3 linked regions of the Homo sapiens genome follow. The protein of the gene in region 1 interacts with the protein of each later gene in a pairwise test. Each region holds a gene or a part of one and is shown on either strand. Other genes may lie near its edges.

Region 1 (3,653 bases):
TATAGAACAGTTCATTAATGAAATATTACAATTTTTATTTTTTCCTGTTTTCTTGGACATAAAAGTTGTCTAGTATTGTTTAAACTAACCATACCTCATCTATTCAAGACACTCTAATTTTTTTTTTGTTAGTAAGATGACCTCCTTAAAAGAAGATGTGCGGCGCAGTGCCATGCTGTGTATTCTCACAGTCCCTGCTGCAATGACCAGTCATGACCTTATGAAGTTTGTTGCCCCATTTAACGAAGTAATTGAACAAATGAAAATTATCAGAGACTCTACTCCCAACCAATATATGGTGCTGATAAAGTTTCGTGCACAGGTAAAAGTTATTAAATTTATTAAAAATCTCTTTGCCACAGAAACTGTGGTATTCAAACTGTATGATAGCTGTGTGTGATTTACAACATTTTGCACTTAAGATTCTTGAGATGTCTTCTAAGATATAATTGTAATTCTAGATGTATTTCTAAATTCATTAGCAGAAATACAATTATAACGTATACACTTTTTTTTTTTTCGGTAGAGATGAGATCTTGCTGTGTTTTCCAGGCTACTCTTGGCCTCAAGCAATCCTCCTGCCTTGGCCTCCCAAAGTGCTAGGATTACAGATGCTCTGAGCCACTGCACCTGGCCTCATGCCCATGATTTTTTATAGATCAGATTGAGTATGAAGTTTAGGGTTTTGCAAGGAGGCAGAGGTTGCAGAAAGCTGACATCACACCACTGCACTCCAGCCTGGGTGGCAAGAGTGAGACTCCGTCTCAAAAAAAAAAAAAAAAAAAATCTAGTGTGTTTTTTTGTTTGTTTCTTTTTGAGACGAATTCTCGCTCTGTCGCCCAGGCTGGAGTGCAGTGGTGTGGTATCGGCTCACTGCAACCTCCGCCTCCCGGGTTCAAGCGATTTTCCTGCCTCAACCTCCTGAGTAGCTGGGACTACAGGCATGCACCACCATGCCTGGCTAATTTTTGTATTTTTAGTGCAGACAGAGTTTCACTATGTTGGCCAGGCTGGTCTCGAACTCCTGACCTTGTGATCCACCCGCCTCAGTCTCCCAAAGTGCTAGGATTACAGGCGTGAGCCATCATGCCCGGCCTGTTTGTTTTTTTAAACAAGCGGTAACTATTCCAGAAAAGCGGTGGTTCCCAGACTTTTTGAAGTTAACACCATCTTATTATTTTTCCATTACCCCCACTTCTTTCATTTTTTTTTTTTTTTTTTTTGAGACGGAGTTTCACTCTTGTTGCCCAGGCTGGAGTGCAATGGCACGATCTCAGCTCACAGCAACCTCCACCTCCTGGGTTCAAGCCATTCTGCCTCAGCCTCCGGAGTAGCTGGGATTATAGGCATGCACCACCATGCCTGGCTAATTTTGTATTTTCAGTAGAGGCGGAGTTTCTCCATGTTGGTCAGGCTGGTCTCAAACTCTGGACCTCAGGTGATCTGCCCGCCCCAGCCTCCCAAAGTGCTGGGATTACAGGCGTGAGCGACTGCACCCGGCCTCATTCTCTTTTTAGTGGGGGAAGAGTGTACCTGTTCTGTGATCTCCAGAGAGAAGCTTTAGTGTGGAGTTCTGTCTGCAAGAGAGTACACAGTTATTATGTTTTCTGTTTACAAAGTACCCCATCATTTAGGGAGACATTTAAAAGGTTTCAATTATCCTTTGGATTTAAAGTTTACAAGTTGACATTAAGAACAGAAAAGCACTTGAATAGCTCCTTTCACTGTCCATCAGAAAGCCTTCCAAGGGTGCCAAGGAGCTTTGCAAACCATGGGAAAATCGTGCCTTAAGCCATTTCAGTCTGGTAGCACATGTAATAATAAGGATAATGATGATAATATCCAACGTTTATCGATGGCTTCTGTATCACTCACTGTGCTAAGTGTTCAATACACTTTGTCTCATTTAATCCTCACTACAATCCCTTGCGGAAACTGTGTTGTTATCTTTGTTTTACAGATGAGGAGGGTGACTGCAGAGGGAGATACATGGTTTGCCCAAGGTTACATAGCTAGACATAAATGACAAGCAAGAGTGTGGCACCCTCACTTTTAATTCCAGGGACGCGTTCCTCTTCTAGTAGGAGTGGGATGAAGGTGTGGGGAAGGGAGGCGGTTGTTTGTGAGACATTCTATGACAGCAGTATTGTTACAGTTTCTACTTAACAACTAGGGCAATAAGCAAGTAACAAAGGAAAAGACCCAGAAATAGATTGGGAAAAAAATGTTGAAGAGCACTCAGGCTTTTGAAATAGTCTGAAGTCGTATAAATCCACCACAGTCACCTGTTTAATAAACCCACACAGTTCCCTATAACAAGTACTGCCCTTCATAATGTGCAGGTAGTACTGTGGATATTTACTGTGAATGAATTTTCCTTGTACATCTGCACTATCCTTCCCCTTGTGTCTTTTGATCAAGTGAAGGTTGCTCAAGTTGACATGTTTTTCTGAGACTGCGAAACAGGTTGCTGCATGCTCTTCCCCATGGGGCTAGAACCCTTTATCTTGGTATCATGAGTTGTATTATTTATTGCTAACTCTGGGTCTTAGGGGCTAATCCCTATCATCCTAACAGGGATTTTCTAATACCTAATAATACCCTCTTGGTGTAAGACTGGAAGTTAAACTAATATCGGCTGTAGTGAGAATAATAGGCTCAGTAGCTACCAACTCTGAAGCACTTACTAGAGACCGGACCCTGTGCCAAGTGCTTTCCATGCATTGTCTCCTTGAATCCTCTCAACGATGCCATGTTGGCCAGGTGCAGTGCCTCATGCCTTTAATCCCAGCACTTTGGGAGAGACCAAGGTGGGCGGAACACTTGAGGGCAGTGGTTTGAGACCAGCCTGGCCAACATGGTAAAAGCTTATGTCTACTAAAAATATAAAACTTAGCTGGATGTGGTGGCGCACGCCTGTAATCTCAGCCACTTGAAAGGCTGAGGCAGGAGAAACTATTGAACCTGGGATGTGGAGGTTGCAGTGAGTCAAGATCACACCACTGTACTCCAGCCTGGGCAACAGAGCGAGACTCTGTCTCAAAAAAAAAAATGCCATGTATTTTACAGTTGAGGAAACAGGCACAGATAAGTCACTTGCCTGCAGCCAAACAGCTAGTAGGTGTCAGAGTTAGGGTTCAAACCTAGGCAGCCTGACTCCATAGCCTGGGCACCTAACTATGTTTTTATTCTTTTCCTCACCACAGATTTTTAAATAAGGACTTATAAGCCTTCTCTTTATCTTTGGTAATTTTTGAATTTCTGTTGGCCTTAGCTTTAGCTGAAAGAGTTGTGAGGCCAGGTGTGGTGGCTCATGTCTGTAATCCCAACACCTTGGGAGGCCAAGACAGGAGTATTGCTTAAGGCCAGGGGTTCAAGACCAGCCTGGGCAACATGGCAAGATCCTGTTTCTTAAAAATTTTTTTTAAAAGATCAAAAAAAAAGGGGGGGTGTGCTTACCAATTTGTAGTGTGACCCTTAGGAAACTTGGTCTTTGGGTAGAGAATTTACAGTTCTTCAGGACATAGGAAAAGCAGAAGGAAGTTCAATTTTGTTGTTCTTGGGGGCAGAAAAGGACAGATGACCACTTAATAGAGTATGTTGGCTTTTTTCACCTGCGTGCTTAGTTACCACAGCCTTAGCAGACACCTCCT
Region 2 (2,804 bases), on another chromosome or scaffold:
TGCTAGGATTACAGGGACTTTTAACTCTGGGGAAAGCTCTCTTTCATGAAAGAAGTCTAGCCATACCGAGACCATAATGCTAGGAAGTCTATGTGTAGGCCCCCTGGTCAACAGCTACAGCTGAGCTCCCAGCCATCAGCTAGCATCAGCTGCCAACCATGTAAGTGAGGCCTCTTGGACATCCAGTCAAGCCTTCAGATGACTGTGGACCCTGCTAACACCCAACTGGTACCACAAATGAGACCTCAAGCAAGAACTGCCCAGCTGAGGCCTTCCCAAATTCCTGGCCAACAAAATCATCAGGCTTTTTAACTACAAACAGTTTTATTTTTTATTTAATAAAAAAGTTTTTATTTAACTTGATTGTTTTATTAAAAGGGAAAAGTAATTTTTTAGTATCTGTTAATATATAATAAAAATAAAGGTATAAGCCTGGGCTTGGTGGCTCATTTCTGTAATCCCAGCACTTTGGGAGGTGTTGGGAGGATCACTTGAGCCCAGGAGTTCGAGACCAGCCTGGGAAACATGCCAAAACCCCATCTCTACAAAAAATTAGCCAGGAATGGTGGCACATGCCTGTAGTCCCAGCTACTCGGGAGGCTGAGTGGGAGGATCACTTGGGCCCGGGAGGCGGAGGTTGCAGTGAGCCAGGATAGCACCACTGCACTCCAGCCTGGGTAACAGAGCGAGACCCTGTCTCATAAATAAATAAATACATAAAGGTGTAAATATATGGATTCTAGAGTCAATGAGCAAAGGTATTGTTGTTACTAATAGGTGATTTTGGCATGAAGAAAAACTGGCCATAAAATACAGTTGAAGATTTGGCTGCATTTTTGCCTTACGATTACATACCTTAATAATTACAACTCAATTGAGGGGTCCATATATATTCTTTCTCATTTTCTGGCAGTAAATCATATTCATCATATACTTCCCAATTTTGCACACACAAAAAATGAAAATAGCCCCCAAAAGAAAGGCAGGATAATGCGATCTATCCTCAAAAGACCCCGTGCTGTCATTTCTCAACAAAGGCGCAGAGAGAAATCAAGGTATGGAATCTAATGAATGTCCGTGAAGGAGGTACTTTTGAATGCTTTAAAGAAAGTCTAAATAAAGTTGCGTTTTCTTTTCTTTTTTTTTTTTTTTGAGACAGAGTTTCACTTTTGTTTCCCAGGCTGGAGTGCAATGGCGCAATTTCGGCTCATTGCAACCTCTACCTCAAGCAATTCTCCTGCCTCAGCCTCCCAAGTAGCTGGGATTACAGGCGCCCACCTGTATTTTTAGTAGAGACGGGGTTTCATCATGTTGGCCAGGCTGGTCTCCAAAGCCTGACCTCAGGCGATCCACCCGCCTCAGCCTCCCAAAGTGCTGAGATTACAGGTGTGAGCCACCGCACCCAGCCGAAATTGTGTTTTCTAAAGCTATTTACATATAAGCTGCCGCTCCTTAGGAAAATTTGGTCCTGTGGTTTATATTTTGGCATGAAACAGCATTGGGCTGTATTCCAGAATCCTGCTTGAAGATTTCTTTTGAAGAAATCAGAAATTTTCTTTGCATTTTTTTTATTTTTTTGAGACAGGTTCTCAGTCTGTCACCTAGGCTGGAGTAGAGTGGTGCCATTATAGCTCACTGCAGACTTGAATTCCTGGACTCAAGCAATTCTCCTGCCTCAGCCTCCCAAGTAGCTAGGACTACAGGCAGGCGCCATTCCTCTCAGCTAATGTTTTTATTTTTTATACATATGGGGTCTCGTTGTGTTGCCCAGGCTGGTATTGAACTCCTGGCCTCAAGCAATCTTCCCTCTTCGGCCTCCTAAAATGCTGGGGTTACAGGTGTGAGCCACTTCACTCACTTTAGAGATTTTCACTTTATGAATTGATAAATACAGCATTGCATCACTTAATAGGGATACATTCTGAGAAATGCATCATGAGGCAGTGTCATGATCGTGCAAGCATCACAGAGTGCTGATACAAACCGAGATGGTACAGCCTACTAAACACCTAGGCTATATGGTAGAGCCTGTTGCTCCTAGGCTACAAATCTGTACTGCATGTTACTGTGCTGGATACTATAGGCAATTGTAACACAATGGTAATTATTTGTATATGTAAACCTATCTAAACACAGAAAAGGTACAGTAAAAATGTGGTACTATAATCTTTTTTTTTTTTTGAGACAGAGTCTCACTCTGTCGCCCAGGCTGGTGTGCAGTGGTGTGATCTCGGCTCATTGCAACCTCCGCCTCCTGGGTTCAAGTGATTCTCCTGCCTCAGCCTCATGAGTAGCTGGGACTACAGGTGCACACCACCAAACCCGGCTAATTTTTGTATTTTTAGTAGAGACGGGGTTTCACCATGTTGGCCAGGATGGTCTCAATCTCCTGACCTCGTGATCCACCCGCCTCGGCCTCTCAAAGTGCTGGGATTACAGGTGTGAGCCACCATGCCTGGCTGGTACTATAATCTTATGAGACCACCATTATATATGCAGTCCATCATGGACCAAAATGTCATGTGGTGCATGAGTATTTTTCATCTAACTTATATATTGCTCAATGAAGTTTGGGCAACTCTAAGGAGCAAACATGTTTATAGAATCTAAGTCAACTTGACCTAAACATATACGACAAAATAGGAGTGATTTTACAAATTCATATTTTGTAGACCTAACTGCAAGGTCATAAGGCATATGCAAAATGAGTTCATCAGTTCAGAGGACTAACAGGACTCCACAGAGCATACCCAGGAAATGTTTTTACTTAGAAGCAAAGGATGTGGCTCAGCAAAAGAAAGGGA
Region 3 (4,301 bases), on another chromosome or scaffold:
AGTCAACTAATTAGCATACAAAAAAACACCAATTTGCTGATTCCAAGGATTTTAGGAATTGCATGCCAGGACAAAGACCAAATATATACTTCACATTATCACAGTTATCTTGCAAGGCAAAGGGACTTGGCAGTTGGAGAAATTATCCTGGATGATTTGAATGGGCCCAATGTCATCACAGGGGGCCTCAAGAATAGAAGAATCAGAGGGATCACTACTGAAGAAATCAGAGTGATGTGATGTGACGAAGACTCAACTCACCGTTACTGATTCTGGAGATGGAGGAAGGGTCCGCAAGCCAAGGAATGTAGGCAACCTCTAGAAGCTGGGAAAGGCAAGTGAACAGATTCTCCCCTGGAGCCTTGGGAAGGAATACAGCCCTGCTGACACCTTGATCTTAGCCCAGCAGTCTCATTTCTTTTGACCTCCAGAGCTGGAAGATAATAAATTTGTGTTAAGGCAGTAAGTTTGTGGTAATTTATTAATAGCAAGAGAAAACGAATATAGCTGCTAGTATGTAAAAGGTGGAAATTTTCACATAAAACTCTAGCCATACCAAAGATGAGTAGCAGCTGCCCCCTTTTAATAAAGGATGTGTTTCCAATTTCACTGCAGTCCTCACCCCTCCCTTTTGTCTACCCCAGCCTCCTATGTCCATTTACATGAACTACCCAGTCTAAGTATTAAGTTTTGTAATCGTATACTGAACTGCAGTGTCTCCCAAACAGTAATCCTAATTTCAGCAGCTAAAATAGAAGCAAGCAAATCCAGCCTTCTTAAAATGATTAATCCTATCAATAATAACAATCTTTTCATTTGTATAGTGTGGTCTAGGTCAAGTTACTTAATTTATATAAGCCTAAATGTCCTTCTCTGCACAAGGTGGGGCAAGTTACAGTACATACCCGCTACAGTCGTTTTGAAGACAAAATGAGACACAGCATGAAAAGTGCATCCACCAGACCCACCTGGTACCCAGTAAGGCCTAGGTAATAAACAACGGCGGAAATCAGTGTACTTCTGCCTCACCTGCCACTAGACATTTGGGTTGTTTCTAATCTTTGGGAAGTAAACGCATTGCTCAACGTATTGCTTTTTCTTTTATGTGACTACTGCCTGAAGTCACTTTCCTAGGAAGAATGGATCGATTAGAGAGGCGGGGCAATACCTTTTACCTGCTGGCAGGTGAAATTTCGCCTCCTGGCGGCGTCACCTAAAGTCCTCTCCCTCCAAGGCGCGCCCTCCGCGGCCGGCAGGGGGCGCCGCGGCCGCCTGGGCCCGCCGGATGCTAACAAGCCTGGCGGCCTCGCCCCCTGCCGGAAGTGGCTGCGGCGGGGGCGGGGCCTACGAACTGGGCCGGGCGGCCGTGCGGGAGCCATGGCGGCCTCGGAGGCGGCGGCGGCGGCGGGGTCCGCGGCTCTGGCGGCGGGTGCCCGGGCCGTCCCGGCGGCCACGACAGGAGCCGCCGCCGCCGCCTCGGGCCCGTGGGTGCCCCCGGGACCCCGACTGAGGGGCAGCCGGCCGCGGCCCGCGGGGGCGACGCAGCAGCCCGCTGTCCCCGCGCCGCCGGCGGGGGAGCTGATCCAGCCGTCGGTGAGCGAGCTGTCCCGGGCCGTGCGGACCAACATCCTGTGCACCGTGCGCGGCTGCGGCAAGATCCTGCCCAACAGCCCCGCGCTCAACATGCACCTAGTCAAGAGCCACCGCCTGCAGGTGAGCCCGACGCGGCCGGCGGCCCGGGGGGCCGGGCCTGGCTCCAACAAAGCGCCCGGCGCCGGCGCGCGAAGCCGGCCTCGGGGGGACGAGCGCCCTGCGCGCTGCCGCTGCCGCTGCCCCACCGGCCTCTGCCCTCCCCGGCCGGAGGCGGCTCTCGAACCCTCGCGGCAGGCGCCGCAGGTGCGGCCTCTGGGGGGGAGGAGGAGCTGGGAGCCCCGGGTCCGCCGTACGCGCCAGTTCCCTGGTTCCCTGGCTCCCTGGCCCCGAGTGTCGTGCCGGACGCCGGCCCAGGCTTTTTACACTTTTTTGCCTGTGAGTTCTTAACGGCGTTTTGGCGAGGGACGCATCGTCTCCATTATATTAATGAGAAACAGATTATGCAACCTAGATGATGCGGGGCTTTAAACCGGGGCCTCTGGTTCTAAAGCCCTGTGCTTGCCACGACACCCACAATGCCGCCCTTGGGTCCTGCCCAGTGGACTGTATGTGCCACAATAACTAGAAGAGAGGGTTTTAAATGTTCTCACCACCAAGAGACAATACGTTTGAGGTCGAGGACATGTTAAACACTCTGACTTGATCACTATGCAATGTATATGTCCATCCATGCTGCACACCGCACCCCATCAGTAGGAATAATTACTGTGTGTCGATTATGAATAAAAAAATGTTTTAAAGGAGCGGTAGGTTTGCCTCTAAACACCATCAGTCAGTTTCACGGTGTTGGTAAGATCAGCTCAGGACTGAGACCTAAGGGAAATTGCCCCTGTGGCTCTTCTTTAAGAGGGGGACACAGTAAATACACCATGACAATAGTCTCAACAACCCTCCACGTTATGCAAAACAGGGCAGTCATTTTCAACCTTGGGACACATCTGTGACAAGCTTATTAAAAATCCAGATGTCCAGCCCCACCCCGGACCTGTTAAGTCACAATCTCTCAGTCATTACAATGGCAAGTTTCCTTCCACCACTCTAGGCCAGCAGTGACATAATTCAAAAGCGCAAGTCATTGAAAGCAGTTCTGCGAATATGTAGCTTTTGATGATCAGGAGTAAATTTAGAGTACCCAGAATATTGCATGTTCTGTCTGCCCATAGTCAGGCTTCTGATAAGAATTTCACAGCAGAAAACTCTGAGGTTGTAGTCTCTAGTAGGACAGATGTGTCGCCAATGAAGAGTGATCTGCTCTTACCACCATCTAAACCGGGATGCAACAACGTTCTCAATTGAAGATCAGGGAGCCAGTCAGGAAATGTACCTGAGGTATGCTGAGGAAGACCGTGCAGGTGGGGCCGAATTGTTGGACTGAAAAGCTCTGGGTTTCTTTCAGCACTCAAGTGTAACTCTGGGAATGGCTTTCAACCTGTTGTTTTGTTTTCATACTAAATTTTAACTAAATCCTTTTCTTCCCTATTGTTTTTGTGTTTTTTTGTTTGTTTTTGAGACAGAGTCTCACTCCATCACCCAGGCTGGAGCGCAGTGGCGCCATCTCAGCTCACTGTAACCTCTGCCTCCGGGGTTCAAGCAGTTCTCCTGCCTCAGCCTCCCTAGTAGCTGGGATTACAGGCACCTGCCACCACACCCTGCTAATTTTTTTTTGTATTTTTAGTAAAGACAGGTTGCACCATGATGGCCAGCTTGGTCTCGAACTCCTGACCCTCAGGTGATCCACCCACCTCAGCCTCTTAAAGTGCTGGGATTCCAGGTGTGAGCCACCGCGACCGACCTAAATCCTTTATTTAATCATAACTTAGGTGGATGAACTATTTCTTAATAGTTTCTGTTGTTCCTTTCTGTGGAGTTGTTGTTAGGAGCTCTAGCTCTTTAAAGACCCTGGTAAACATCTGTTGAACATAAAGATACCATTTGCCTTTCAGGACTGGTTAGTATACAGTAGGTTTGTTTCTAATTATGTTGGGTTTTTTTTGTTTTGTTTGAGACAGAGTCTCACTCTGTCGCCCAGGCTGGAGTGCAGTGGCGCCATCTTGGATCACTGCAACCTCTGCCTCCCAGGTTCAAGCGAGTCTCCTGCCTCAGCCTCCCTAGTAGCTGGGATTACAGGTGCATACCACCACGCCCAGCTAATTTTTGTATTTTTAGTAGAGGTGGGGTTTCACCATGTTGGCCAGGCTGGTCTCGAACTCCTGACCTCAAGTGATCCACCCGCCTCAGCCTCCTAAAGGGCTGGGATTACAGGTGTGAGCCACTGTGCCCAGCCAGGGCAAACTTTTTTTTAGCAGGAATTATACCTCACCAGATCCATCATTTTTTTCTTGACAAGCAGACTGACTTTCCTGTCTTGTCCTGGCTTTCTAACCGCAGTGCCCAGTGGCCCCTGAGCAGCTCCTGTCTTGGTGTCTTCCTTTAATGAAGGTTGTCTGTGTGATGCAATAGCCATCTATATGATGGTGCCCAGTATGGAGATCTGTACCTTGTCTGGTTACTACATAGAAGGCTTTTCAGGGTCTTGCTCTGTTAACCCAGGTTGCTGTCAGGCTCTTGAGCTCAAGTGATCCTCCTGCTTTAGCCTCCCCAGTAGCTGAGACTATAGGCTCCTGCCACCATGCCCTGCCTCAAACATT

Evidence for each region.
Region 2: the proteins of BRAP (region 1) and ZNF382 interact in a two-hybrid assay, tested with the Homo sapiens proteins (one study listed by BioGRID and IntAct).
Region 3: the proteins of BRAP (region 1) and ATMIN interact in a two-hybrid assay, tested with the Homo sapiens proteins (one study listed by BioGRID and IntAct).

Annotation. Positions count from the first base shown.
Region 1 is NC_000012.12:111,675,820-111,679,472, reverse strand, and holds part of BRAP (BRCA1-associated protein), read left to right. Parts: intron 1-132; coding exon 133-322; intron 323-3,653. UniProt on the Homo sapiens protein: Negatively regulates MAP kinase activation by limiting the formation of Raf/MEK complexes probably by inactivation of the KSR1 scaffold protein.
Region 2 is NC_000019.10:36,629,225-36,632,028, forward strand, and holds part of ZNF382 (zinc finger protein 382), read left to right. Parts: 3' UTR 1-2,804. UniProt on the Homo sapiens protein: Functions as a sequence-specific transcriptional repressor.
Region 3 is NC_000016.10:81,034,494-81,038,794, forward strand, and holds the start of ATMIN (ATM interactor), read left to right. Parts: upstream 1-1,348; 5' UTR 1,349-1,377; coding exon 1,378-1,713; intron 1,714-2,243; exon of another isoform or gene 2,244-4,301. UniProt on the Homo sapiens protein: Transcription factor. Plays a crucial role in cell survival and RAD51 foci formation in response to methylating DNA damage. Involved in regulating the activity of ATM in the absence of DNA damage. May play a role in stabilizing ATM.